Linked DNA regions of Homo sapiens. The protein of the gene in region 1 purifies or fractionates together with the protein of each later gene. This does not show direct contact. Each region holds a gene or a part of one and is shown in the gene's direction. Other genes may lie near its edges.

Evidence for each region.
Region 2: the proteins of MED13 (region 1) and LPXN purify together in Homo sapiens (co-immunoprecipitation; one large-scale study listed by IntAct). This does not show direct contact.

What each region holds. Positions count from the first base shown.
Region 1 is NC_000017.11:61,943,157-61,946,778, reverse strand, and holds part of MED13 (mediator of RNA polymerase II transcription subunit 13), read left to right. Parts: intron 1-178; coding exon 179-311; 3' UTR 312-3,622. UniProt on the Homo sapiens protein: Component of the Mediator complex, a coactivator involved in the regulated transcription of nearly all RNA polymerase II-dependent genes.
Region 2 is NC_000011.10:58,565,778-58,569,399, reverse strand, and holds part of LPXN (leupaxin), read left to right. Parts: intron 1-3,622. UniProt on the Homo sapiens protein: Transcriptional coactivator for androgen receptor (AR) and serum response factor (SRF). Contributes to the regulation of cell adhesion, spreading and cell migration and acts as a negative regulator in integrin-mediated cell adhesion events.

The sequences.
Region 1 (3,622 bases):
ACTTGAGTAATCTACTTTTGAGAATAATTTTTATGGAAATTGCTTCTTTCCCCTCAAGGACTCTCTGTTACACTCTTTTTTAAGGTGACTTTGAGTCTTAAATGCCATAATTGAAAACTGCTTCCAAAATCTAGGTTGGAAATAAATAAATGACTTATGCAGTTTATTTGCTTTTCAGGTTTGTTTTGGAACAGTACAATGCACTCTCCTGGCTAACCTGTGACCCTGCAACCCAGGACAGACGCTCATGTCTCCCAATTCATTTTGTGGTGCTGAATCAGTTATATAACTTTATTATGAATATGCTGTGATCTTCATTTGATGGAACTGTGCAAGAAAAGAACAAGGAAAAATGGATGTTTCGCTGCAGGATTAAGTTACAATTATCTTCTCAGTGAAGGTCATTTGTGATGGGGTCTAATTCTTATTACTTCAACAAATATTGTTTTGACTTGGGGGGAGGGGCTATAACCCTGCTATTTTTCATTGACTCTATTGAACTCTTTAGGATGATGACTGATCATACAAAACGTATTATAACATTTTCGTAGCAAAATTAACCTTTTTTTTTTCCAGTCACAGTATTTGTGAAAAGTAATGAGCCATAGTACCCAGTCATGTTAAATGAATATTAAAAGCATGGAGAGGAAACATGAGGAACAATGAATTTCAACATATGGCTTCAGAACATGAAGATGTTCTTGTATGGATTATAGTATCTAGTATTCAAAAATGCCTGCATCTCTTCTCTTATTTATTGTAAGTTTTTAAATGTATAAATTGTCTTATATTTCTTAACCTCTTTTATAAAAATTTTCCTAGAAGGTTTATACTGCCTTCTTGCTTTAAAGCAATTGGTCTAAAATATATGTAATCGTCTTAATTAAAAAGTTGCAGTAGGGTTGCTTTTAGAGTATTATTTTTTTGTAAGGGGGTGGGTGGGACAGTAAATTTGTATTGTCTCGATGTACAGTTTAACGGGGATAGAGGGGGAATAATGTCCATACCATTGTGTGTGGAGGATTTACAGCTAAGCTGTAGTTGCAGAGTACATGTACAGTAATGAAGTTCACTGTGTTTATAAATTGAAAAGGTACCAGGTCTTACAGCATTTTATATATCACATCTTTACAGAATAACATGATGGCAATATACAAGTGGTATTGTTAGGTGGTTTAACTTAGAATAAAATGAGAATTCTTCAGTTATATTTTGTACTATGGTTTAGGGCTATGACTAATATTTCAGGCCATTTCCGGTGAAAGAAACTTAGTTTTACAAGAAAAACCATTTGCTACTGAATGCTTAAACTAATTTTAGTGTTTAATGTTACATGCTTAAATTTTTTTCAGTTTTAACAGTGGCATATTTAGGCATGGAAATATTATTATGAAATTTATTTTCAGGATCTGCTATAAGGTTGAAATTTAGCCCAGCTCTAGGCATTTTACAAATTATTTTTCAAGCAGTCATTCTTGATTGTTTGACTTTTTTTTTTAAATTAAAGATTGGGAATGTATGTGAGAGTATGCATATGTATGGGTGTGTGTGTGTGCGCGCAATCAAACTGTGGTGTAAATAGATTCTCAGTGAATTCTGGTATTCAGACTCTATTCCACTAGTGAAAGAACCATTTTTTAAACTTCCCTTGCCTTTTTTATTTATTTAATTTTCTTGGTTTGGAGATGTCAGTCCCAAACACCAGAGTCTGTACTTTTCTATAACACAGCTCAGATTAAGGTAGGGCATATGCCAAGGAGGTTCTCACCTCCCTAAAGAAGGGACTTGAATTTTAGGGACTTTAATTCACCCCTCCTTCAATACAACTTTCCCCCTTCTTGTTTGCACATGCCAAGATAACTGCTTTTATGCAGGCTGTACCCCCTTGAAAAATCCTTTCTACAGTGCTGCTCACAAAAGAGCCCAAGTTCGCCTCCTACCTGCATTGCTGACTTGAATTCACAGTCGCCGAGTCTACCTAGCTTTCTTGGAAGCAGTCTAGCAAAATTTCTATTTGTACGTTCACTAATTATCTACAAGGACAAAATCAGTTGTATTTACAAAACTCTACTTCAGTGTTTGTTTTAGTTTTTTTTTTTACTGAAACTTGTTTTTGTGAATACTCTGTGCTTAGAATTAAATATCACTTTCTTATGAACAACATAACTTCTTCAGATTGTGTATATGAAAACATTAGCAAGTCTTGTTTTTTCTATGAAGCAAACACAATTGGTGACAAAGGTTGTCAATCATTTCTTCAAAATTATAATGCAGTTCTAATGGTCAGCATATTTTGATATTAAATTTAAAGATCACCTCTCTGCATTTGTTTTTAAATTATGCTAATACACCACACATTATGTTGGTATGTTTTGTTCTGTACTTTCTTTAAAAAAAAAAAAAAAACTTGTCTGAGATTTGAAGGAAAATGTGCTTATTTGGAATTTCCATAAAAAGAGTATCCTTTTTATACACTTAATAGTGACTTTACAAAATAAAAGTTATATTCTCAGTTGTTTAAAATCACTAACCTATGATAACCACACCTCAATTTGAAAGTAGATTTAAAATTATTCCCTGACAGGTTATTTAATATGGAGCCATAAGGAGGGAACCCAGTACACAATTATTTTTTATTTGGGAATCAGGGAATAGTTCCCAAATATACAGGATTTATTGATAAGATTTTTTTTCTTCCCTTCATATATCCATTCAAACTCAATGGAAAGTTATTAAATAACCATTAGAAAAGCTCAGTAGACTTATTTGAGAAATTAAGCCTTGTGCAGGATGATGGATTTGACTTACTAATGTACTGTCACAGACAAATATGGGTAGTTTTGTTTAAATAGGTAAGCAAAATATTATACTTTATAGCAGTGGATTACCAACACCTTGACTTCTTTGTTACAGTGCTAACATCTTTTTTTTTGTGCAGGTATCCATGATTATTAAGCAGGGTGGAAGTTCAGTATTTTGTCATTTAAAAAGATTAGTTATATAATGTCTGCTTCCAGCCAGTGAGAAACATCTAGCCATACCTTTCTTATGCAAGCCATTGAGTTATCAGGACTGTGAATTAACACTGTATGAATAAATTTCTGTACACCTTATTGTTTGGCCAGAAGGCCACCAAGTGTACTTATATGTAATCCTTAAATTTTAAAGTAGCTGTAATTTTTAAATATTTCTAAACTTTTCTTAAACCACTAAAATTAAGCTCTTACTACTTAGTCAACTATCCTCAGCTGTATTCGTACTCAATTGTCAGTATGGCACAGATTACTGTATTAAAATATTCTCCTTTCGTCTTCATATTTACCTTCTGAGGTAATTTTTTAACTTAATGTGTTACTACAAAGATTTGCAGATCTTTAATCAAGCACTATGTTAATACTGTAATATCAGAATACTATGTTGCATTATTTAAAATGTTCAAATTGAATAGATTAAAAAGTTTTTAAATGCTATTGCATCATATAATTTGCTATTCATCCACTATGGCATTGCATATCAATCAGTTAATACACTTAATGTTGCATGAGTGATATTTTGGTCTGGGTTTCCTCTTAAGATTTTAGTTTGTCTGAATTAAGGAAAAATGTTTTTAATATACATTCTT
Region 2 (3,622 bases), on another chromosome or scaffold:
AAACAAACAAAAAAAAAACAAAACTCAGAAATCAAATTTACAGTTAAAGCTATCAAGTAAAACAGCTATATTTACTCATATATGCATTCTCTTCCTATGGATAAGTCTATATGGACGTACATTATAATTAAAAGGTTGCTTGATGAGAATGGAATTAGTGTAAGATGAATTAAGTAGATGCTCTTCATAGCTGGTAATTTTGTACTATGATATTTTGATTCATCATTGTTCCCTGTATGAAATAGCCAGAAGCACAGACCTGAAATTTGAGCTCAGGGGTAGTTTACGCCCTAACTGTTCTTTTCTCCAGACACATACACAATTTTAACGATACGAATTTATCTCTCTACTAGGGAACTATTGTCTTTGTTCTCAGTGTTAGATTATAGCTGTAGGCTCCTAAGTGGTCTCCTGCCCTTTGCCCCACTGCAGTCTGTTCTCAAGCAGCCAGGGTCACCTTTAAAAACTAAAGTCAGACCCTGTCATTCTTCTACTCAAAACCCCAAAATGACTCCCATCTCATTTGGAGTAAAAGCCATAGTTTCATGTTGATCTTTCTGGGGTGACCATATATCCTGGTTTACCTGAAAGAGTCCTGGGTTTATGCTTGTTTTTCTCACATCCTATTAACTTTACTTTTTACCCCAGATCTTCAATTTTATTTAAAGTTTTCTTATCAGTATTTGCATTAAGTAAGCCACTATGGCTTAACAGACCTCCTTCCAGCTTCTTCCATGGTCTCATCTAGCAGCGTATGAAACACATATTCAGTGAACAGTGCTCTTTTTTTTTTTTTTGAGATGGAGTCTCTTTCTGTCGTGCAGGCTGGAGTGCAGTGGTGCAATCTTGGCTCACTGCCACCTCTGCCTCCCAGGTTCAAGTGATTCTCCTGCCTCAGCCTCCTGAGTATCTGGGACTACAGGCATGCACCACCATGCGCAGCTAATTTTTGTATTTTTAGTAGAGACAGGATTTCACCATGTTGACTAGGCTGGTCTTGTACTCCTGACCTCAGGTGATTTGCCTGCCTCAGCTTCCCAAAGTGCTGGGATTACAAGCACGAGCCACTGTCCCCAGCCAAATTCTGACTTAATTATGGTTAAATGCAAAAGATGGCTAATGATAACTTGTCTTTTTTCTTGATTCTGTTCAGATGAAACCTAGCTAGCAGCAACCTTTCAAGAATTATATGCAGGGTGCTGCCTGTTAAAGCTAAGAGCTCAAGCACAAGTACCTCTTCTGATCTTAGGTGGTAGCAGAAGAATTTCTGAGGCTTTTCCCCCTGCTGGCCACTTTGTGAACCACCACTCATGCCCTCATGTGGTCGTGTGGTGGGTGGCCTGTGAGATGCGTGGAACCTCCTCAGAGTCAGTAGAAAATGGGAGAAATTGTGGCTTAATGTCATACAAATTATGTTTAGGAAATAGAGGCTAAGTAATTTTGCCATAGAGTATAGTGTAACCTAATTGTTTTATTAAAGCAGTTTTGTTATTATTTGTATATGTGAAGCTCTATTTGTTTTATTATATGGTAATGCCTTTTGAATTTTACAATAAACCCTTTCAGCAGTTAGCTCAAAACAAAACCCACATGTTTAATTGTCTCAAGAAAGCTGATAATGAATATGCAACGTGCAGAAAATATTTTTCAATATTTACCATGTACCATGCAGGCAAGTAGAAAGATCACTATCCCTTTGAAAACCAGAAGGTACAAATATGGTGAAGCAGCTTTGGCATCTATTTCCAAAGTTAATAATTTAAGAAGAATATGCCTTAAAATGACTTCAACACGGCAGCTGCAGGAGGCCTATGTACATGTCATTGTGAAGCACACCTTCCCATTAGTATCAAATAACTCATAAATTAATTTTGCTCATTTTCAATTCCAAGTTTTCTTGTACTTGTAAGTAAACTGGTAATAATTAATGAGTGATTTTCCTTTGCAAACCTTCAAATAATGTTTTTTATAATAATTTCCTTAGAGGTCTCAATTCAAAAATGTATTAATTCTGAAATGTTTCAATTTTGTTTTTTATCTAATTCAAACAATCAAAATAAAATATGTGAAAATTTATTTCCTAGTCAAAAAGTGAAACATCTGACATTGTTAATGCCACTGTAAATTTAGTTGAAAAGCTCAACATTGAAGGTAAACTGTTGTTTTTGTTGTAAGAATATGAATACAAATGTTAATAGAGCACAGCATTGTGTTAAAAATGTTCTTACCAAGTTAACAAGCTATGAAGCAGAAATGTACTTGGAATTGGTTGTAATGTGCACAAAATTTGTGACTGCATTCAAACAAGCTGCGGTATTCTGTCAGTCAAAACAGAAACTAAAATTGTCAAAATGTATAAATTATAAATATATATATACACACACACACACACACACACAGATTTTATAAGTAACTGATCTACAAAACTTTTCTGACAGAAGCTGATATTGAACACTACCATGCAAGGAAACATTTCAGAATGACTATATGTATATTCCTGTCTGTGTTGCATGTCATCAATTGGATTTTGGGAATGCCTGAGCCTTTGAAAAACCACTTTGTAAAGCAACCCAAATTTAGATTGCATTATGTTCAAGACCAGTTGGAAATTTTTAATCGATTACTGAATGAATGTAGCATGAAAATTCAGCTTTTGAAGCTTTTAGCAAGTTACAATTATGTAAAATAAGGCTTGCAAAGGAAGAAGCTCAAATTTCTCCCTACAAAAGCGAAGAAGGAGTTGAACAAATCAAAAGATGAAAGCAGATATGGTTTAATTATCTATTTTGACAATTGTGCTTCAGAAAAATCTTGACTTTGATGTATTTTGACTTCTAATTTTATTTGGATAAATTTTTATTCTCTACCAAAATGGAGAAAAATTGTGAAAGTCTATGATTTTGCAGTATCTAGATTTGGTGAAATGTTGAAACAATCACAGATATAGACAACTTGAAAGTTTTATCTTGTAAGAAATTATTGAGCAAAAGTGCTTTGAATGAAGGTAGAAAGACAGCACCTATGACGATATTGGCCTGAAATATTTACATATTTTAATCTAAAAAATGAGAAGATTCTTCATTTAGCAGAACTTACAGGTTCATCAGTATCTAGAGAGGAAATGTGTTCTCAGTTAAAAACATATAGTGAAGCATCAATTAAAGTTGTCCATAATTTCAAATATATTAACCATAAAATGAAGTTTTGAAAAAGATTGCAGTTTTATAAAAAAATAACTGTTTAAATAAAAAACGAAAAAAAACACATGTTCCTGAAAAATGTCCACATCCCAATGCTAGAGACAATAATATCTAAATAACCAATTAAGGTATGTGAATACATATAAAGAATAATTGTCTGTACCATTAAAAATGTTCAGATAATCAATTTTTTGTTGTTGTTGAGACAGAGTGTCACTCTGTTGCCCAGGCTGGAGTTCAGTGGCATGATCTTGGCTCGCTGCAACCTCCGCCTCCTGGGTTCAAGCAATTCTCCTGTCTCAGCCTCCCGAGTAGCTGGGACTACAGGCACCCACCACCATACCTGGCAAATTTTTTTGTATTTTTAGTAGAGACAGGGTTTCACCATGTCTGGTCACATGACACCAGGCTGGTCTCAAATT